Linked DNA regions of Homo sapiens. The protein of the gene in region 4 interacts with the protein of the main gene of each other region in a pairwise test. Each region holds a gene or a part of one and is shown on either strand. Other genes may lie near its edges. The genes, in order: GRIP1, TCOF1, ZNF460 and FGF12.

Region 1 (7,045 bases), on a different chromosome or scaffold from region 4:
TTCATCCAGGATATTGTTGATGATGAGGGCTGCAAAGTACATGTAATCTATCCAATAGTACTCTGTTCATTTAGGTCAAAGCCAGCTCTGAAAGGTGACAAAATATCGTACTGTAGGAAAATTTAGACTTTTGACCTCTGCTGATTATTTGGTTACCCTCTATCTTGATGTTTCTCTCTGGAGCCCTTAGCAGATCATCACCAGCCTATTGGCCACAACTTCAGCATCAGCCCAGAAGAAACTTGTGAACCAGCAAACAGAGCTGTTTTAGGCTTGATATGGGAGCTTCTCAGCTGCTAATGTAAATTTGAGCCCAATGTTGAAGATTTTGTGCCCTAAAATGTTGACTTAAGCATTGCAGTGTGTGGTGGATGGTCTTTAGTTCTGAATGTGTGGAGTAAATACGTTGAGTAGAGCACTCAGAAAGTGGAGGTAATGGCTGCATTCAAAACTCCCAATCTATGGCCAGAAGTGAAGTAAGTGCTGGCGAGAGAGGACACATTGCTTCCCAAATGACTTGATAGACCTTTCATTTTATATTCATCATAATTCTTCACTGCAAACACAAATAATTGAATTGTTAACTCAAGCTTTGGTTTTCCTCCTTATTTTAGGATTTCATATCGTAAACGAACAGCTGCTCACTGCAAAAATGTGGCCATGTTAATGCTTCACTAGGATGTAGTCTGACTGTAAAAGCTGACTATTTTGCTAAAGTAGCCACTGAACCATTTCATTTTATCCTTAGTTGCAGAAATGAAACAGTTCCTTAACCATTCACAGCTCCCAGGCCCAAGGAATAAAACAAGAAGTGCCCAAGAACTTTAAGCATGTCAGAAGCAAATAAAACCTTTGAATTCTGAGACTTCTTATTTGCAACTCTGACACCATCACAATACCCATCACGTTGAAGGCGGCCCATGATATCTTTCTGGCCAGTGCTTTAGGCAGAGCACATTCACAAGTGTCTTCAACTATAATAATGTTGAATAGCCAAAATTAGTTTATGACAGTGTGGCAGGCTGGTCTATGCTGTTGAAACATAGCTTACAACAGCTGTTACTCCATTGAAAGAGGAGAGATGATCATTCAAACCTCCACTTTAATATCCGTAATTCACTGATAGGACTCACATTAGAAGACAGTCAGTGGAATGATATCTAAGAGATTCTAGATTTCTTGCTGTTGTCTTCAAGTTTACTTATCTAAGTTCCACTTAACCATATATATGTTATTTGTTCCAACCCTTCGCAAAATCCACTTTTCTATATCAAAAGTTAGCATGCATGTAAAGCTTAAAACGGAAACAGCGTGACCCAATGTCTGTCTTCTTTGTTACTGAGTGACTCTCTCCTCTCATATTATAATGCCTCCTCAGCCATATGTTTATTTCACAGATATTTACTGCATACTTACTAAATGCTAGGTAAGCACTGTCCTAGACATGGACACAGTTGAAAGGTCCTGCAGCCCCAGCTGGGCGGATCTCACACATTTAAAACATAAGTCATTAGGCAGTGTTCCTCTCCCCTGGCACTGACAATGATTATATCCCTGTATTTGAATGTAAGATCCTACTAAGGAAATGCTACTTCCCAAAATAATTATTTTCTGTGACATGATACTTTGACGAGGATGTTTTGAATTCTTTTATGTATGAATCTATGCATCTTACTCTTTTGCTTTTTCCAAAGAAATCAATTATGATTCCTTGGCATTTATTACAGATGAGCAAGAAAGTTCCGGAGCAATTATTTACACCGTGGAGCTTAAACGCTACGGGGGGCCCCTTGGCATCACAATTTCAGGAACTGAAGAGCCGTTTGATCCTATAATCATTTCAAGCCTCACTAAAGGGGGATTAGCTGAAAGGTAAAATTTGAAGTAACTGTTATAATTACCTGTGTCTGAGACGGGCTTCCTTCCTCACAACCACATAAAAACATGCTCCTCTCTCTGTGGTTATCTGTTGGCTTTTAAAAATCTGCACAAAGGATTGATCTTAGAGCCTGAGAACTCTCAGGCAGAGTTCCGACTTGACTCTGAGGGGCATCTTACAGGCAGTAAAAGACGTCTTGGGCTTAGCATTGATACTACTCTCTGAAATGTATAAGCTGACCACAATTGACTGAAGGCGGATTTGTATTGTGTCCATTTTGAGAGGAGGAAACTAAAGTTCAGGGAGGTTGAACAGCTTGTCCAATTTCATTCAGCAAACACTTGCTGAGCCTCTGTTACCTGACAGGTGCCACACTTAGCTGCTGTGTTTTCAGAAAAGGATGATACAGACATCATCTTCAAGGATTATGGGAAACAAAGTGTATAACCCATTTTAATAATGTCTTAAAAGCTGGAATGTCCATTTTTTCCTTTGGCAATGATGTACACACACACCCACTCCCCACCCTCCGCTAAACTGCATTTCTTTCTGAGATGTGTTGTTGGACATATAACAAACCCTATAAGCAAATCTGCCCTCCAGTAACCTAGCTCAGGAATACACAAATGCATTGTTCCTGCTAACAGTTGAAAACAGTGGCTAGCAAAATAGAGACACAGCATTGCAAAATGTTGGAGCTGCAGTGTACCTTAGAAATTAGCTCATACAGGCCAGGTGCGGTGGCTCACACCTGTAATCCCAGAACTTTGGGAGGCCGAGGTAGATGGATCACGAGGTCAGTTCAAGACCAGCCTGGCCAATGGGGAAACCTCATCTCTACTAAAAATAGAAAAATTAGCTGGGGATGGTGGTGCTTGCCTGTAATCCCAGCTACTTGGGAGGCTGAGGCTGGAGAATTGCTTGAACCCGGGATGCGGAGGTTGCAGTGAGCCAAGATCGTGCCACTGGACTCCAGCCTGGGTGACACAGTGAGGCTCTGTCTCAAAAAAAAAAAAAAAAAAAAAAAAAAATCTGTAGAAAGAAAGGATGCTCCATGCTATCCACTACATTTGTCATTCAACATTGTTCATTTTCTTGGGATTTTTAGGGTGCTTAACCAATGACTCAGCTTTCTTGGAATTAAAAAACACAGTTCATTTTAATAACTAATTAAAACAATTTTTAAAATTTTATTGGAAACTAAAAAGTAATCCACAACAGATGCAGTTATCTTATAACATTGCCCAGGAGAAAGCAAGAAGGGACTTCTGGAGATCCTTACCAAGTCTTTATTATGATGAATGTATAAGGTATGTCAGGGAATTTATATTCAGTACCATACAGGGATTATTTCTACCTCTCCTATTACTATTTGGCTTTTCAGAACTGGCGCAATCCACATAGGAGACCGAATCCTAGCCATCAATAGCAGCAGCTTGAAAGGGAAGCCTCTGAGTGAAGCCATCCATTTGTTACAGATGGCAGGAGAGACTGTCACCTTGAAAATTAAGAAACAGACAGATGGTGAGTAGTGAATTGAAAGCCACAATTAAGGATTTCCAGTGCATTTTCTTCCTTGAAAGAATGTGCTAGTGTCTGTGTGTAATTCTAGGGAAACAAATCTCTAGCCACGGAGTATCTTGGTATATTTTTATTTAAATTTACTCTGATACTTAAACTCCTTTCCTGTCTATAAAGCCCAGTCAGCATCGAGCCCCAAGAAGTTCCCTATTTCTAGCCATTTGAGTGACCTGGGGGATGTGGAGGAGGACTCCTCACCAGCACAGAAGCCAGGCAAGCTCTCCGACATGTACCCCTCCACGGTGCCCAGTGTGGACAGTGCTGTGGATTCATGGGATGGGTCTGCAATAGACACCAGCTATGGAACTCAAGGTATGTCTTTACTTTGTCCCCCAGAGGACTTGTCATTGTTGAAGCCCATGCTTCTCCAAGATTCATCCTCTGCTCCATGAGGAGAATATCTTTCTTTAACTTGTGTCTGCTTTGGTGCAGCCATAATCATATTGAACACATTGAATACTTACACTCTGCTGGCCATGCATTTTCTTCTAGTGCTTATAAGGCATGAACCTTTACCAAACACTAACAGGCCTCCATTAGGTCTACTGATGGCCAAGTATCCCATCCAGGGCTTGTCCTTCAAGCTTAGATTAATGTGAGGCAAACCATACAATAAAGTGGCTCGTTCAATACAGGCCCCATTGCCTTATTTTTCAGCAAGCTTTCCACAAAGATGGATTGGGGAGTTTGGAAGAGGTGCATAAGAGATTAGCCAATGATTTGTGACTCTATTTATTCCTGCACACTCCTGACTTTTTTTTTTCTTTTAGAGACTGGGTCTCACTCTGTCACCCCAGCTAGAATACCCTGGCACCATCATAGTTCATTATAGTCTCAAACTCCTGGACTCAAGGGATCTTGCTGCCTCAGTCTCCTCAGTAGCTGAGACTATGTGCACACACCACCACACCCAGCTGATTTTTAAATTTTTGTAGATACGGGGTCTTGTCATGTTCTCCAGGCTGGTATCAAACTTCTGGCCTCCAGCAATCCTCCCATCTTGGCCTCCCAAAGTGCTAGGATAATAGGCATGAGCCACCATGCCCTTTCCCTGAATGTTTATAATTAGAGCACTATAATCACAATATAGGAAAGTATAGAGTAGATTTTTCTTCATAGGTGTCATCGTCATGTGAAGAAATACTATCTACATTAAAAAGCCTCACTCATGGAATATAAACACATAAAAGGTGTCAGACTGAATACAGAGCATAAACTAATAGCTTCTTTTAAAAAATATTTTCTTCCCAGTGATCCGTAGCATCAACAAGAGAAGTATGTCAAAACTTCTTGGTATTTCTCCTCATCTGAGCCTTACCTTCTCTCATGTTCTATGTAAATTCCAGCCTCTGAATCCCTTGTTTGCTCTGGGTTTCAGTCAGTCAAATAATAAAACACATAAACAGTTTAGAGAACACATTGGTGTGAGGGCTGCTTTGTCACTGAGTTAACTGTACTTTTTAGGAGTGTCTGTATCCAGTTTGCTCTCTCCTGGTTTTCCTAGTTTCCTTCTCTCAGCCTGCCTATGTTGTGTCACTCTCTGTTAAGTCCTCTGGTGAACAAAAAACAAAAATGGAAGGGAGAAAAAACTGGAAAAAAAAATGAAAGGAGATGATATTTCAAAGTTGTCAAGTTGTTACTTTCATTAGAGATGATACTGGAGTTAGGTGGGGAAAATACTTTGAACACCTAAGTAGAATTGGGGCTTTATCTGGCAATTAATTTTTCCAAGTCATAATACCTTGTGACAAGTTCACCTATGCCACCAAATAACAGACCTTCTGATTGCCTGAGAATTGATGGGCCACCAGAAGACACTGAGTAAAGGACAGAAGTCACATTCTATCAGAGTAGACTCAGGTTTATTTATCAATTTATTGTGTATTGGTTATTTATTTGTGTATTTTTTGTGTATTGCTTATTAATGTAGAGATATTTTTGTTACCAGAGATTTTTGTGAGGGTGCTATTGATATTAATTAGTTCTTCCCTGTAAGGTGATCTGTAAGACCTTAGCTACTCCATCCCTTGAAACCACAGACACAGGACCATGAGAAGCAAACTGAATATAGGACCTGCCCCTCACTAGTAAAAGATGAAAAACCATTTACTATTTGTGAAGCATTTTGAAATTTTGAATCATAGTCATAATATTACATTTTGCATTTATAATTTAGACATTTTTATGAGGTTGAAGGGAACTGAGGGATAAGTAGAGACAATGGCAATCAGGATAGAATCGAAGTACTCCAAGGTAATGAAAAAATAGTAATAACCCTTTATATATATAGAACACTCTAGAGTTTACAAAGCACTTTCACATAACTAATCCCCATTAATTCTTGTGACGAACATGGGAGCTGAAGGCAGGATTTCAGGTTTGGAAAGGGTTTAGGAGTCAGCTAGTCTGATGTCCAGTGCAGCCCTTGGTGCCAGGTCCTGCCTCACTGCACGCCAAGACACGCTGCATGGACTTGAATGCCCAAGGTGACAGGTTGTTCCTTGTGCTGAGGCAGCCCCCCATCTCCACGTAGCTCTGATGACTCTAAAGCTCTCACTTGTATTGAGCTGCAGTATGCCTAATAGTCCCGGCTATACCCTCAAGGTCATTCTGCACTAGACTAAAGCCTCTTCTCCTGACAGCCCCTTAGATACTCGAAGACAGCTATTGGGTCTCTGTTGAGGCTTTCCTTCTCCAAGCAAAATAGCCCCAGTTCCTTTAACTGTGTCTTCTATAATTTACTGACGAGTATCTGTATCGTCCTGTGGACCTCCCTTACGAATGTGCTTCAGTTTACCTGTGTACCCGTTAAAGTGTAACATTCAGAAAGGAAAATCACACAACAGCCCGACAGCCCGGAGCAAAGCAAGCTGGTCACTGGCATCATTGAAGACAGGAGAACTGATCAATGACACCTACCTCAACATAAGAATTTTAGTGGTCATGGCACATCTGTCACTCATTTTGCGCTTACAGTTTACCGAGATCTCAAAGTCTTGTGAATGTGTTTTTTTTTCTTTACCCGTGATATTCAGTTAAACTGCATCTCTCCAGATTGTGCTTGTGAGGTTGACTTTTTAAAAGCAAGGCACAGCTGGGTGCAGTGGCTCAGGCCTATATTCCCAGCACTTTGGGAGGCTGAGGTGGGCAAATCACCTGAGGTCAGGAGTTCAAGACCAGCCTGAGCAACGTGGCGAAACCCCATCTCTACTAAAAATACAAAAACTAGCCAGGCGTGGTGGCACACACCTGTAATCCCAGCTACTCGGGAGGCTGAGGCAGGAGAATCGCTTGAACCAGGAGGCGGAGATTGCAGTGAGCCAAGATCATGCCACTGCACTCCAGCCTGGGCAATAGAACAAGACTACGTCTCAAAAAAAATTAAAACAAAAATAAAAGCAAGGCATAGAACCACACTTTTATTTTTCCTATTCAATATTATGTTGTGAGATACAGCTTATCTCTCCAACCTGTCCCTCCAGCCTCTCAGCAGGCTCTCTGCCTTGTTCCAGGAAGCCCCTGCACATTCTCTCTGTTCCCTTTAAGGCTGTAATAGTTGCCTTGTTCCCAGGAGACTCCATAATG
Region 2 (7,000 bases), on a different chromosome or scaffold from region 4:
CTTAGATCTTACAATGGTTTGTATGCTCATCATGTACATTCATCACCCATCCAGCCACCCAAGCAGAAACCTGGGTGTCACCACCAGTTCCAGCTCCCAGCCCTCTCTGATCTCAGGGGTCCCTCATAAGGCCTGGCCCGTGAAGGATTCCACTCTCTCCCTGCAAACATCCATCTGCCTTGCTTCCCTCGCTACCCAGTGTAGATCCCAGGACCCAGAATTTTAGCATCTCTTTGCCAATACTTTAGACTCCTGTGCCCTTTTTTCCCCACCCATCTGGCAAAGCCCTAGGCCTGGATAAATCCCACTATGTACATACATCTCCCCAGCCTGCAGCTGGGTAGGTGAGCCCTGATGGAGGAATTCACTCAGCAGGACAGGACGAGACACACATACACTAAGGACCACCAACCTCAACTGGGGAGCCAAGGCTGTCAGGCAATTGGGGATTTTGTGGGCAAGTTGCTTCTCAACACTCTGAATGATCATTCTTTCAAACTCCTCACCACCTCTTCTTCACTCTCAGCAGAAGACCTTGCCTCCCACTTTGCAGAAAAAATAGAAGCTCAAAATGAAATCTCCCTTAACATCCCACTATAAACCTACATCTACATCTGCACCCATCCTCTCTTTGTTCCTGCTTTTGGGTTCTAGAGAACTCATCCCTCCTCCTCCCCAAGACGAACCCCCCCAACCCACATGCCTGATCCCAGCCCCTCGCACATGCTTGAGAGAACTTTACTCGCTGATTATCTCCCCTATTTCTTACACTCTTGGTTAACCTCTCTCTCCTGGATCTGCCATTCACTTTTAAACAAATCTCAGGTTTCTTCTACCTTGAAACACACCTCCCCTAACATACATATTGGCCCTAGCACTTTATCTTTCTCGTCCTTTTTATACAAAAACTTCTCGAAAGACCCACTGCCTCCCTCATCCCTCCTGCACTCATCAGACCACTGCCATCTGACCCCCTCCATCATGCCACACATAAATAGCCCTCCCTAAGTCCCCAACAATCTCCACGCCTGTCCATAAACCAAAGCCCAGGGCTGCACCCTCCTCCTATCTGACCTCTCAGAGCATTCCCTCCATCAAGTCTTCCCAGCTTTCTAAAATGTCTCCCTTGGCCTCCTTCCATAAGCCCACTCTCCTGGGCTTTCTCCAAGCTGTCCAGCCACTCCTGATCAGCCTTTGCAGGCAGATCCTTTTGTACACAGCCCTAATCTGTAGATGTACCTCAAAACTTCATCCTGGGCCATCTCTCTTCTCTCTCCACATTCTTCTCCCTGGGTAAGCTTCTCCTCATCCACAGCCGCAATTATCATCTGTCTATCGACAACTTCTCATCTTCATCTCTAGCCCAGACCTCCACGCCACGTCCAAACCCAGGTTTCCAAGAACCTTCTCAACATCTGCATGTGGTGACTGTAAGGCATTTCAAGCTCAAGATGTCTAACATAGAATATATACTTTCACCTCTCTGTCCACATCCTCCTCTCCTCAATCAAACCACCCCCCTGTCTCAGTCCTCTTCTAGTTTTTTCTATCTCAGTGAAAAATACTGCCTACTTGTTTGCACAGAAACCTCAAGGTCCATTCTGACATTGCCTTTTCCTTCCCCTCCCATTCCAACACACCTCTGTGAAAACTTTAGTTCCTGATTAACTCTGGGAACCTTCCACTCTCTTCAACTCCACTGCCACCAGCACCCTCCCCGCTGCCCCCGCCACCTACCACCCGCCCCCCCCCCCCACATACACTGTCTTCTCCCTGGATGCCTGCCTGCACTCCTAACCCTGACTTGTCTTCCCACATCTACTCATACCCACCAGACACACTCCACTCTCCACTGGGCAGGCACACAGGTCACAGTAAAATTCAGATTTCATCCTGTACCTCTTGGGCTTACACCGTCAGTGGCTTCCAATGGCTCTTAGGATGGAGGAAAAAAAACCCTGATGTGGCCAATCCTTCACATGGAGTCTGCCCTCTGCCCACCTTCTACACTCCCCAGTCCCCCTGCTCTCCCTCCGGACTATGCTACAAAGGCCTTTTTGTGTCTATTCTCTCAGCTGTACCTTCTGCCCTAGGCCCTTTGCACAGGTTCTTCCCTCTGCTCAGGTTTCTTCTCTCTGACTCTCCCTTACACACAGTTCTGGTTTCCTCATAACCATTAATTTCTCAGGGAATCCTTCCCTAACTCCCAAGAAAAAAATAGATCCCTCCTTCCTGTTATATGCTTTCACAATAATAGCACACACGCACACAGAGAGCGCTATTGTTCAGAGCTCCTCTAAGCATTTCTGCTGAGAATTCATTTACTCCTTATGACAACCCAGTGAGGTAGAAATTATAATTATCTCCATTGTACAGATAAAGAAACTGAGTCACAGTGACTTGCCCAAAGTCACCTAGTTAATGAGGCAAAGCCAGAATTTGAACCCAGGCAGTGTGACTCCAGTGCAGCTTTTAAACACTATATTATTACATAAGAAAACACTATCCTTTTCCTTCCTGCACTTACCCGCTGTTTGTAACACTGTATTGTATGACTATTAGTTTAGTATGTGTCTCCTCCGTTAGACTGTAAGCTCTATTGGAGTAGAGACAATTCCATCACTAGACTGTAAGCTCTATAGGAGTAGAGACTATTCCATCCCCAATGGTAGGTACTCAATAAATATTTGCTCAAGAAAATGGGAAATGTTGAATGTGTACAGACACATAACATTTTCCATTCAAGTTCAAGACAAAGATAACCACATACCTGGACCTCCTAGGGTTAGGGACTCCTGCGCCCGTAAGAAACATGCTGCCCTCAGATTCTCAATGGGTCGGTGAAGTTAAGAACAGCTCACTCTAACATTCTCCAGCCTACCTCACCTTTTCCCTGCCATCCTTCCCTCAACAACTACAACAGCCTCACATTTAGTATTAATGGTATGTGCTTTGGTTTTAGCAATCTTTTAAAAACACAAAACAGGGTCAACCTCCTCGGAAAAGCCAGTCAGAGACTATCTAATGCCCTCAGAGCAAAGTCCAAACTCTGTTGGGGGTGGGGGAGTTGTAGGCCTTGTCTACTTCTTCATCCTCATGTGCCCTCATTTGTTCCCTCTTCCCCACCTCACCCCACCCCACCTGGACAGCCCAGCAGCGCAGACTAGGGGTTCTGGGTTTAGGGTTCCCAGGCAATAGCAGGGTGTTTTCTCATGCCTAGACTCATGCAGTGCCCTCTGCCAGTCCTCTCCTTTGCACCCAGCAATTTCGGGTGTCTTTATGCCTCAGCTTAGATATCTCTCTGGGGTTCGGTGCTCCTCCTTGGGGCGCCCATAGGCTGCATCTGTCCCTGACAAGGCACACAAGATATTGAACTATAGTTGCTTGGTTACGGACAGTCGTCTCTGTGAGCTTTGAGGGCAACTGCCATGTATTATGCATCTTTTGAATCCCCCTAGCCTAGCCGGGTGCTAGCCCAAGTTAGGTGCTTATTACAGATTTGTTCAGTTAGCGAATGAATCAATGAATAAACTGGCAATTCGTGTCTGGTTCATGGGCACCAAAAACCGTGCGAAATGGATAAATGAGCAGGTAATGGCAGTACAAAGTTCGGATCTAGAGAAAGATCCAGATTAGGGAGTTCAGAGATGAGTAAAACGCAGACCCAGCCATCAGAGAATTAACAAGGAAGATAAATCTCTTCAAGAAGCCAGCCGGAAGGATTAAAAGAGAGTCGTCCAAGTCCCGGCCGGCCCCGGGGGCGGGTCCCTGTCTAGCCCCGCATGCTCCGCGCCAATGGGCGGTATTGTTGATCACGAGTCTCCGCCCCCTTCGCCTTGAGGGGCGGGGCCGGCCACTCCCGGAGAGGGGACTACGTTTCCCGGCGCGCCGCGCGGCCGGAGCGAAAGAGGAGCCGGAAGTGTGGCGCGCGAGGTCTAAGGGCGCGAGGGAAGTGGCGGGCGGGGACTAAGGCGGGGCGTGCAGGTAGCCGGCCGGCCGGGGGTCGCGGGTATGGCCGAGGCCAGGAAGCGGCGGGAGCTACTTCCCCTGATCTACCACCATCTGCTGCGGGCTGGCTATGTGCGTGCGGCGCGGGAAGTGAAGGAGCAGAGCGGCCAGGTAAGCGTTCGTGGGCCGTGTGCGAGGGCCGCGTGCAAGATGTGGAGATCAGCGGCCCGCGGCCCGCGCCCCGTCCCCAGGCGACCCGGCAGGCGCCCGGAGCCGGGTCCCGCAGTGCTCGACGGCGCGGCCAGGGGTACCGGAGGAGCCGCAATCTCTGCCTTCCCACTGCGACTTCAGTTCCCCTGGGCCTCACTTTCCTCATCCGGGCAGTGGGTTGGGCCAGAAAGTGTGCTCGCAGGGGCCGAACTTTGTAATTCCCGCTTCCCTTACCTCCACGCCCTTCCTGGTAGCGGGTATTTTAAGTTTCCTAAGTCTCCCGCCACGTGGCTAGGCTCTGCGCGGCCCCCCCTGGGGCAAGGAGGTTGCTGCGAGTCTCGGGGGTGGATTGCGACCAGCCCCTCGGGGGAGCGCCTGGAAAAGGGACCCTACAGCCTCTTAGTTGAGCTGGAACTCAGGCCTTTAGCGATTGTCTGTACTGAGACGGTCAGCTTTGGTACTCGAACTCGTGGTACAGTCATTTCTTACTTGATTAATTCAACTGTTAATCCGGTACTCAGGGTGCTTCCTGGTGTTCGAATGGTGAGCACCATCTCTCAGCCCTCCTGGAGCTTACACTCTAGTAAGGTAGACAAATCAAAGAATCACAAAAGTGACTATATGCTTAGCACCGCAATAAGTGTTAAGAATGAGAGGGATGGGCCGGGCACGGTAGCTCACGCCTGTAATCCCAGCACTTAGGGAGGCCGAGACTAGCGGATCACCTGAGGTCAGAAGTTCGAGACCAGCCTGGCCAACATGGTGAAACACCGTTTCTACTAAAAATACAAAAATTAGCTGGGCATGTTGGCGCACGCCTGTAATCCTGGCTACTCATGTGGCTGAGGCACAAGAATTGCTTGAACCCGGGAGGCAGAGGTTGCAATGAGTCAAGATCGTGCCACTGCACTCCAGCCTGGGCGATAAAGCGAGACTCTGCCTCAAAAAAAAAAGAGAGATGGATGGCAGATTGCCCTGGTCAGGAATAGCTGAGGTGTAAATGCCTTGTGGTGGGAGGGAACTTGTGTACACACTGGCCTGGAGAAAGTCCACTCTCTTGAGCCCAGGAATTTGAGGATACAGTATGAGCCATGATCATGCCACTGCACTCCAGCCTGGGCAACAGAGCAAGACACTGTCTCAAAAAAAAATTTTTTTTAAGTCCATAGCAGGCCAGGTACGGTAGCTCACGCCTGTAATCCCAGCACTTTGGGAGGCCGAGGCAGGCGGATCACTTGAGGCCAGGAGTTCAAAACCAGCCTGACCGACATGGTGAAACCCTGTCTCTACTAAAAATGCAAAAATTAGCCATGCATGGTGGCATGCACCTGTAGTCCCAGTTACTCGGGAGGCTGAGTCAGGAGAATCACTTGAACCCAGGAGGCAGAGGTTGCACTGAGCTGAGACTGAGCCACTGCACTCCATCCTGGGTGACAAGGCGAGACTCCATCTCAAAAAAAAAAAAAACGTCCATAGTGGCTGAAGTGTGAAGTACAAGGGCCAGATGCCCCTGGGGAGATGGAGGCAGGGGCTGGCTGGAGTGGTCTGGTGGGCAGTTTGATCTTCCTTGGAAGAGCAGTGGTAAACCAATGGAGAGTTTTGAACTGGTGAGACAGTATCCTAAGTAGTCAGATCCCTTTGCCCTGTGGTGTAGGCTCTGCTCCTAATGCTTGCTCTCAGAACCTCCTGGAGGGACTAAAGGGTGATGGGCCCTAAGACGTTATGTATGCTTTTCCCAGTTTCTCTGAACCTCACTTGCTCTTCCTACCGCAGCTATGGTACTTCACAGATAAGGGGAGCAAGAGATAGTACCCATCTTCATTGGAGCAAAATATCCTGCCGTCATGGAGCACACATTCTAGTAGGAGCAGACAGGTGACAAATAGAAAAAGTTTAATAAGTTAATGATATAGTATATCCAATGATAGTTGGTGCTTGCTATAAAAGGCAGGCAAGGGGGATAAGGGATGTCAGACTTCGATTATAAGTAGGGTAGTCAAGGAAGTCTCATTGAGAAGGTGTCATTTGGGCAGAGACCTGAAGGAAATGAGGGAGTGAGCTGTGTAGTTAACAGGGGAGAGAACATTCCAGACAAGAAGAATAGCAAGGCCGCGTTAGAGGCAGGGTGGCCTGACACATTTGAGGACAGCAAGGAGGACACTTTGCCTGAGGTGGAGCAGAGGGAAACTGACTCTTGAAATCTTAGTGTTACCGGCTCACTGCTGGGCACTGACAGATGGTCTTGTTCAAACCAGATAGCAGCCTGCAAGGTAGGTATCGCTGTTGTCCCCATGTTAAGAAGAAATCTGAAGTTCGAAGACGTGACGAGATTAGTTCAGTCCACCCGTGCCCCACATTGCTTAGCCTCATTAGAGTACTTGATATCCTGGCTTATTGACATTTACAGAGACATTGGGCCCTCTGGCCTCTGCTCCAAAGGCCTGGATTCCACCTGGTTCCCTCTGCTTCCACCAAGGGACTGGTACCATTTGGGCCCAGTCTTCTCCCAGCAGACTAGTAGACTGTGGTCATGCCACCTGGATGCCTCAGGTGTCTGGGCTGTGATTCGTGCTTTGGGAAGATTGGCTGGCCACGTCTTTGAAAGCTTTTTTAAAGGTCAAAGGTGGGGAAAACCCTGTCTCATGGCCTCTAGGCATGGATAGTGCCAGAGAGGCTGGGAGCTGGATGAATGCTAGCTTGGAACATTCCACCTCTGGCCTTTCAAAGGGGTTGTCTAAAAAGGTTTTAGTTGGGATTGGTTGTTCTTCTTGTCTCTGGAAGGTTTGGGACAGAACTGGCAGGGCCAAGCAGACATACTTCCCAGAGCAAAAAGACCCTCTTT
Region 3 (4,130 bases), on a different chromosome or scaffold from region 4:
TTTAGTAGATATGGGGTTTCACCATGTTGGCCAGGCTGGTCTCAAACTCCTGACCTCAAGTGATCCGCCTGCCTTGGCCTCCCAAAGTGCTGGGATTACAGGGATGAGCCACTGTACCCAGCCCATCAAATCATAGCTATTTTCAAATCATCACTATTTTCATCTTATTGTTCTCACCAAAAAGGTGGTTTCATTTCTTCTGTACTATCTTAATAAGTTCTTTTGTGTATTGTGTTCCCTTCAGGTGACAGCACAAAACCTGAGACCGTAGAGCCTATCCCTTCTCATCTGGCCTTGCCTGAGGAAGTCTCACTCCAGGAACAGCTGGCACAGGGAGTCCCAAGATACTCCTATTTGGGGCAGGCCATGGATCAAGATGGGCCATCTGAAATGCAGGAATACTTTTTGAGACCAGGGACAGACCCACAGAGTGAGAAACTCCATGGGAAAATGAGCCTTGAACACGAAGGTTTGGCGACAGCTGATGGTATTTGTTCAATGATGATACAGAACCAAGTCTCACCAGAAGATGCTCTCTATGGATTTGACTCATATGGACCAGTTACAGATTCCTTGATTCATGAAGGGGAAAATTCCTATAAATTCGAGGAAATGTTTAATGAGAATTGCTTCCTTGTTCAGCATGAGCAGATTCTCCCTCGTGTGAAGCCCTATGATTGCCCAGAATGTGGGAAAGCCTTCGGCAAGAGCAAACACCTCCTTCAGCATCACATCATCCATACTGGGGAGAAGCCCTATAAATGCCTGGAGTGTGGGAAAGACTTCAACCGCAGGTCACACCTCACACGGCACCAGCGGACTCACAATGGAGATAAGCCCTTTGTGTGCAGTGAATGTGGAAGGACCTTCAATCGCGGGTCGCACCTTACACGGCACCAGCGGGTTCACAGTGGAGAGAAGCCTTTTGTGTGCAATGAATGTGGAAAGGCCTTTACCTACCGCTCCAATTTTGTCTTGCATAACAAGAGCCACAATGAGAAGAAACCCTTCGCATGCAGCGAATGTGGAAAAGGCTTTTATGAGAGTACAGCCCTCATTCAACACTTCATTATCCATACTGGGGAGAGGCCCTTTAAGTGCCTTGAGTGTGGGAAGGCCTTCAACTGCAGGTCACACCTCAAGCAGCATGAGCGGATTCACACTGGTGAGAAGCCCTTTGTGTGCAGTCAATGTGGAAAGGCCTTCACTCACTATTCCACCTATGTCCTGCATGAAAGAGCCCACACTGGAGAAAAGCCTTTTGAGTGCAAAGAATGTGGGAAAGCCTTTAGCATTCGAAAAGACCTCATTCGACACTTCAACATCCACACTGGAGAGAAGCCCTATGAGTGTTTACAGTGTGGAAAGGCTTTTACCCGCATGTCAGGGCTCACAAGGCACCAGTGGATTCATACTGGAGAGAAGCCGTATGTATGCATCCAATGTGGGAAAGCCTTTTGTCGGACCACAAACCTGATTCGACACTTTAGCATCCACACTGGAGAGAAGCCCTATGAATGCGTGGAGTGCGGGAAGGCCTTCAACCGCAGGTCACCCCTCACAAGGCACCAGCGGATTCACACTGCAGAGAAGTCCCACGAACCCATCCAGAGTGGGAACGTTTCTTGTGAGAGCACAGATCTCATTCAACACTCCATCATCCACACTGAGAGTAGCCCAGTGAGTGCAGTGAATATGGAAACGCCTTCAATTGCCGCTCATTCCTCCTCACTCGACATCAACGGATTCATAGTGGAAGAAACCCTACCATTGTAACAGATGTGGAAAGACTTTTTACGTACACTTCAGTCAACATCCAAGAATTCCTATTAGCGAAATAGTTTTTTAATATAACCACTGAAGAAAATCTGTGGTGAGAGGAAACATCTTACCATCTGGTCATTCATACTGAAGAGAAACTCCATAAGTATCATCTCTGTGGGAAAACCTGTTTTAGATCATCATTTGTCATCTAAACAATTATGTTAGAAATTGACACAGCCAAGAGTCTTATTCTACATCTGATAATTCACCCATGAAAGAGACCCAGTGGTTACTGTGCACTTAGGAAAACCTTCAGCCACATCTTTCTTATTAGTTTACAGTGAAATGTTATCTCAGGGACATTCAAACAAAGGAGGAGGAGTCATAGGGAAGAGAAAGAAATGGAAGCACAGCTTCTTTCAGACTTCCCTGACAAGCCCATGGCAATTTGTCATCCCCTCCTTATTTTATTTGGGAGAGGGAAATGTTTCAGAAACAAAAGGGCCTCATCCCCTTTATTTTCCCTGTGTATACATTCACTGCTGTCCAGTGCTGTAGACAAACGGTTTGTTTGAAAACATTTTGTGAAAGCCTGCTTTGTTCCACAGCATTGTCTCCACTCTTGAGGAGCAGAAGCATATATCTTTATGAGAAAGATGGAGGCTTGAGTTATGAAATACTTTTACATTTAAGGAGATAAAGGATGTACATATGAATGGGCACATTTTACTGCACACTTCAGACGCTTTGACTTTTTTAAAAAAATTGTTTCTCCGTGTGTCTTTAACCACCCAGTACCATACTTTTTTCTTGATCTGGATCTACTTGTCAATTTCTTCTTTATTTTTCTGTAGGATGGAGATGATATTGTAGCTGTTTGTACATAATGTAATCCAGGGAGTCCTAATTCTTCCCTCTGATTGTGGTTTCTCAGCTTTTTTACTGCTCTTTAGAGAGAGTAAATAGTTCAAAATTCACCTCAACAATTTTCTAGAGGTCAATTTGGAACCAAAAATGAAATAAGACATGTAGCTAAAGTAAGTTAAAAGATTATGATAAACTCAGAAAATAAACACAGAGAAGGAATCTCATTTTTCAGTCTTACAGAAGATTGTGTGAAGGCTGACTATACATAAAGTGACTGGAATTTTAACAGGTGAACCTGCATATGTATATGCAGGTAGTTGTCACCATGGATTGAGTCCAGTCGTAGTAATTAATATGTTTAATCAGAATATTTTGGAATTTCTCTTTTGGTATTCTTTTTGTTTCTTTTATTGTTTTTAATTGACAATGTTTATGGGGTTTGGTGTGATATTTCAATACATGTGTGCTAAGAGTAATGATCAAATCAGGGTAATTAGCATATCCATCTCAATCATTTATCATTTCTTTGTGTTTAGAAACATTCACAGTCTGCTTTTCTAGCTATTTGAAAATATAAAATGTATTATTGCCAATTGTACTCATTCTGCAGTGCCACAGAACACTACAACTTATTCAAATGGAATCTTACTTGCTGTAATTTTGTATTTGTTAACCAATCTCTATCTGCCTCTCTGCTGTCCTTCCCAGCCTCTGGTTACCACCATTCTCAACCTTTTATGCTTGCATATGAGTAGAAACATGGAGTATTTCTCTTTCTGTGTCTAGCTTATTTCACTTAATGTCTTTCAAGCTCATTCATGTTGCTGTGAATGACAGGTTTATTTTTCATGGCTGAGTAGTATTCCATTGTGTATATATGCCATGTTTTCTTTCTTCATTCATCTGATAATGGACACTTAGACTGATTTCTTAGCTATTATGAATAGTGCTTCAATAAACATAGGAGTGTAGATCTCTCTTTGACGTATAGATATATTTGTTTTTGCATATATGCCCAGTAGTGGTATAGATCATTACCAGTGGATCATATGGTAGTTGTATTTTTAACTTTTGTTTATTTTTCATTTTTTAAAATGGGGTCTTGCTGTGTTATTCAGGCTGGTCTCAGACTCCTGGGCTCAAGCAGTCCTGCACCTCAGCCTCCTGAGTAGCTGGGACTACAGGCACACACCACCGTGCCTGGCTATAGTTTTAGATTTTTGAGGAACATTCATACTGTTTTCCATATGGCTATACTAATTAGCATTCCTACCAGCCATATATAAGAGTTCCCCCTTTTCCATGTTCTCAGCAGCATTTTTTATTTTTTATCTTTGGTAATAGCCATCCTAACTGAGGTGAAATTATATCTCATTGTGGTTTTGATTTGCATTTCCCTGATTAGTGATGTTGAGCATTTTTTCATATACTTGGCCATTTGTATGTCTCCTTTTGAGGGATGTCTATTCACCTTATTTACCCATTTTAAAATCAGATTT
Region 4 (4,697 bases):
GCTGCGATGTGTGGTTTTGCTTGATTTTGTATTTTATTTGGGCATCTGGAATTGACACACCATTACATTCTGTTTGCAGGATTTTTTTTGTAACCATGAAATTGAACATTTCCAAATTATAAACTATGTTAATACCTATAAAATATATAGCCAGGAACCATTTATCATCAAGAAAAGTGTAAGAAATTATTTTTGAGATGTAATTTAAGATTGTTTTATGTAAAAGGAAAATCTTGTATGGCATCGAATAGCCTTAATGAGTTTAATTCTTTCACAAAAATGATTTCAAATTATCCTAGAGTATAACATTTTTATCAAAGATATTATTTCCGGAGTTCTTCTTTCTTTCTTTTTTTTTTTTTTTTAGTAATTTAGCAAAAACATTACTGTTCTAATGCTGAAGTGACTTTTGCCAGTGCCATGTCCAGGTGGTGAGGTATAAGTTACTTGCTCTTAGCATTTGGTCTGATTTTTTTGCTTTGTGGACACCTTTGAGAGTATCCACAAAGCAATGTCTCAGGTGTGGACACCTGAGAGCATGTTTTAGAAAGCTTTGTACCCTGTCTTGTGGCAGGAAAGAAAGAACAGGGGTTTTACATAAGGAAATAAGTCCTAGGAAATTAGTCAACGCAAATTGCATTTGCGTTTGTACCTTACCACAGTCTTATATTGTTTTTTAAACTCTGCCATGAAATTTGGAGACATGACTGTGAAATTCCTAACTTACTATCTTACAAAGCCAGTAGCTAATTTGTTGCTCTATGTATGATCCTGTTACAAGTCCAGTTTGCAATTCATTTGTTTCCTAGAACACAGAAGGGTACCAGTAATACACTAAATTTTCAAGGTGTGTAGAGAAATAATATGGAATTAGCAGCTATGACTCCAACAGACAGGATTGTGTGAGCAGCTGAAAGGAGCAAAAAAGAACTCAGTGTAAGAGAAGGCACATACATAGTTAAGAATACTAAAGTATTTTTAAAAATCAAGGAAGAAATAAATGTTACACAATTTGCATTGGAATAAATAGATCTATTTAGTCCTACAAATCAGGAGTGGTGTAGAGACATCCAAATTTAAAGAAAAAAAAACACAAAACAGAATGTTAAAAAATGTATGCAGATTTATGGATATTATCAATGAGAAGACATAGCATGTAACTTCTCCTATATCTCTACTGTCCAGCATGTATTGTTCCAAATATGACTCCCTAAAATATATACACTTTGCAGAAGCTCTAGGCCCTCACCTCAAACCTTGCCATTGGTTGCCGTATTTCAAGGTCAATATAGTTTCCCTCACTTTACACAATCATTATTCTTCAATAGTGGACCATATCCTTCACCAGGTATCCTATTTCTGTTATCTAGAGGTTAGCAGAAAATGAAATGAAGGAATTTCCCTAAGCAGTTGGGAAGAACAAATTGTATGCATGTAGGCAAAGATTTTGAAGATACATTTGCAAGAGATATTTGTTTAACCAAAATATTTGGAAAGTAACAAATAAAGACATTTAAATTTTCTAAAAATGGACTTGCTCTTCTAGGAAAAGAATACCCCTGGGGCAAAAATATAACTCTAGCTGTATTTCTTCTTGTCACTCTTGATTCAACTTGATTATAAATACACCTGTCACTACCAGAACCAAAAAAAAAAAGAAAAAAATCCCAAGCACAAAGCTTATTTTATTTGAAAAAAATAAAAAAGAAACTTCAACACTATGGGACACTGGCTCTTTTAGCATGAAATGACTTGAGCTTTTGTAGTGATGATACACATACACACTCATCAGTAAAACGATGGTTTCATAAATAACACAATTGATGCAAATCATAAAAATCAATTACAATTATGATTTCATGACAAAATATATTTAATTAAGTTTGTTATGAAAAAAATAGAGATATGAATCACTAACAAAATTCCTCCATTTTCAGTGGCTATTCATCATTTATCATCTAGACTCACATTTGTCTCCTTCCTGATAGCAGTTAAGAAAAAATTCTAACCACACAATTTGTATATTGTTTTTCTCCGTATTATGTTAAGCAAATGTTCACTGCAGTAAAATGTTTTGGAAATTAGCTTTGTCTTATTTCCAGTTTAGTTCAGAGAATTAATTGGAAACCTGATTTCTTTTACACATAAACCTGACAAAAAATGTAGCTTAGAGCAAAGGGTGAATGTTTGCTTAACTCCTGCTTACTTCTCAAGTACATGAAAACTTTAATAGAATATGCCAGTATTCACTGAGTTTTTAAAAATATTACCATGTGTAAACATATAATATCCAACTTCATCCAAAAATATGGTTGAGTTTAAGTACTTTGTTTTTCAGGCTTATTTCAAGTATAATAATTCTTTGATTTTCATTGTTCTGATTTCTGGGTCTTCAATTCATTCGTCACTTTTCCTTTTTAAGTAAAATAAGCTTTTTTTTTTTTTTTTTTTTTTTTTTGGAGTTGCATTGGGATTTTTCCCAGGAAAAAATATGGCTTTTAGTAATGCTTTGCAATTGGCTACGCAGATATAAATTAAGATATGTTTATTCTGAGTTCTTATTGGAATAAGTTTCAAAATCAACGAGCTTAAGAATGAAAACAAAACTTTTGAGAGTCTCACAAAATAGCTTTCTGGTCAATACACCTTACTTGATTTTTAAGCTCGCAGAATAAAGTATAGAAACAAATGGAGCTGAAGTTCCATTTGCTAATTCAGAGACTTTTGTGCTTCCGCAAATTGGAGGGCAGCAAGCCATCCTATTCTCATAGTAATCGTTTTGGCTTTGAAATTTACATACAATTTAATAGCACATTTTTAGCCATTATGGATTGGCGCAATAAAGAGATATCAATGTAATGCAATGTGATGCTTTATGGGCCTCATTCTAATTCAGAAAGCTTGTTTAAAAGAACTAAGACTCTTCTGTTTAATAAAATAGCAACAATCTAATATCTAGATTGGTAGTCCTGCGGTGCCACTAGTGGGAGATGAGAGTATTAAGACAAGAGTAAGGACAAGGAAAGACTTAAAGGTTGCATATTGAAAAGTTTGGAATTCCTAATTTGGGAGCACTGATTTCTTGGTGAAGAAGTAAGTATGACTACGTTGCCAGTAATTTTTTAAAAACATAGACCCAGAAATAGCAAATCGATTTCACCCTCATACCTTAGTCTACAAGGCCTTGCTCTTGAGAAGGTTTTCCATGATATTGCTTAATTTCATCTGCACAAGATGAGACACAAACATAAAAATTCCCTGCTCATTTTAATACCATAAAAGGCTGAGGTTATTTCTCTGTCATAAAATTGTAAATAGCATTTTTTAAGTCAAAATTACATTTAAAACAGTGGATTGTTCTACAAATATATATGTGTATATATACATATGCTTCTGAAATAAGGATATATTATATGAGTTTTTATTTGATTTGTGGTCTTTAGTCATAGGTAATCAAAAATAAAGAGATTTGAATGCAAAACTTTATACATTAATGTACATTTCTAATGATGGTACAAATTGCCACTTTATAATAAAAAAGAAACAGGTGGGAATAATAATCAAAGCACGTGTTCCTTCAGTACTTTGGTGATTTTTAATCCCCCTTGTGATGCACAGGAAATTATTTTTTAGTTACAAAAAGTTATCTTAGAAATCTATACTTCCCAATACAGATTTCATGTTAAGTCATATCAAATTGAGAATTTGTGGTGAAAGAATAGGAAAAGGATGCTAGATGCTGATCTTTCTTTTTCAGGATTTTTCCTGGAGCCCAAGTTAAAAATTCAATACTTAAATCTAAGTTAAGTGAAAATTAATAATGTTCAGAATGATGTATTGAGCTTTAGTAACAGACGGAAGCAAAAAAAAATAAGAATATTTAACATTATGATAATAGCCTTAAAATAATGTAATAAAAATTGCATCATTAAATGTTCTATTAGTTGGAAAGAATGAGCTGATGTTTCTTTGTCTTTGCTCCAAGTACAATTTAAAGACAGTGACATTCATTTTACTTAAAATTGTTCAAAAAGTCCAAAACATACTCCCATGGCTAGAATTGGTATTAGCTCCAATACAAGGTTAAATGTTACAATCTTAAGAAATTATTGACACTGAAATGTTTAGTAAACATGTTGTATGAGAAACTAAACAAATTAATGTTTCATTTTTCCATTAAAGCACAGATTATTCAAATCATTGTTTTCTGAGCTCAGATTTGTAAAACGTTTATACATCATTACCCTCCTGGAATTAAAAACAATTAAAATCCTGAGATGCTCATGCACGTAGACGAAATACTGGCACTTTTTTTTAAACATTAAACTTCTTTGAGAAGTCTACCTTTTTTTTTTTAGTGTGTTTATCCTATATTGCTGAAAAAGCGCTGTGTCTTTTTAAGAAAAAGATCAAAAATTGATTTACAGATGGGAAAGATGTCTAATTTTGTAGAAGAGTTGAAAGAAAAGTAAATGTTTCTTTGTAATTACGTAGCTACTTGTCTCAACCTGACATCTTGCTTTCAAGGATTAAGAACTAAAGTACGTTCATTTATTCTTTTATTCATAACATACCAACTAGAGGCTCAGTTGAGTTTAGGCATCATACACTGAATTGCAATCTCAAAACAACAACAACAAAGGCAGACACATAAATAAATAATGCAATACCTAAAAGTATGTGCTATGATAAATGCA

Evidence for each region.
Region 1: the proteins of FGF12 (region 4) and GRIP1 interact in binary tests that used the Homo sapiens proteins (3 or more experiments, as listed by UniProt).
Region 2: the proteins of FGF12 (region 4) and TCOF1 interact in binary tests that used the Homo sapiens proteins (3 or more experiments, as listed by UniProt).
Region 3: the proteins of FGF12 (region 4) and ZNF460 interact in binary tests that used the Homo sapiens proteins (3 or more experiments, as listed by UniProt).

Annotation. Positions count from the first base shown.
Region 1 is NC_000012.12:66,389,035-66,396,079, reverse strand, and holds part of GRIP1 (glutamate receptor-interacting protein 1), read left to right. Parts: intron 1-1,727; coding exon 1,728-1,872; intron 1,873-3,263; coding exon 3,264-3,403; intron 3,404-3,577; coding exon 3,578-3,772; intron 3,773-7,045. UniProt on the Homo sapiens protein: May play a role as a localized scaffold for the assembly of a multiprotein signaling complex and as mediator of the trafficking of its binding partners at specific subcellular location in neurons.
Region 2 is NC_000005.10:150,353,736-150,360,735, forward strand, and holds the start of TCOF1 (treacle protein), read left to right. Parts: upstream 1-3,961; 5' UTR 3,962-4,011; coding exon 4,012-4,119; intron 4,120-7,000.
Region 3 is NC_000019.10:57,290,455-57,294,584, forward strand, and holds the end of ZNF460 (zinc finger protein 460), read left to right. Parts: intron 1-244; coding exon 245-1,776; 3' UTR 1,777-3,615; downstream 3,616-4,130. UniProt on the Homo sapiens protein: May be involved in transcriptional regulation.
Region 4 is NC_000003.12:192,138,890-192,143,586, reverse strand, and holds the end of FGF12 (fibroblast growth factor 12), read left to right. Parts: 3' UTR 1-4,197; downstream 4,198-4,697. UniProt on the Homo sapiens protein: Involved in nervous system development and function. Involved in the positive regulation of voltage-gated sodium channel activity. Promotes neuronal excitability by elevating the voltage dependence of neuronal sodium channel SCN8A fast inactivation.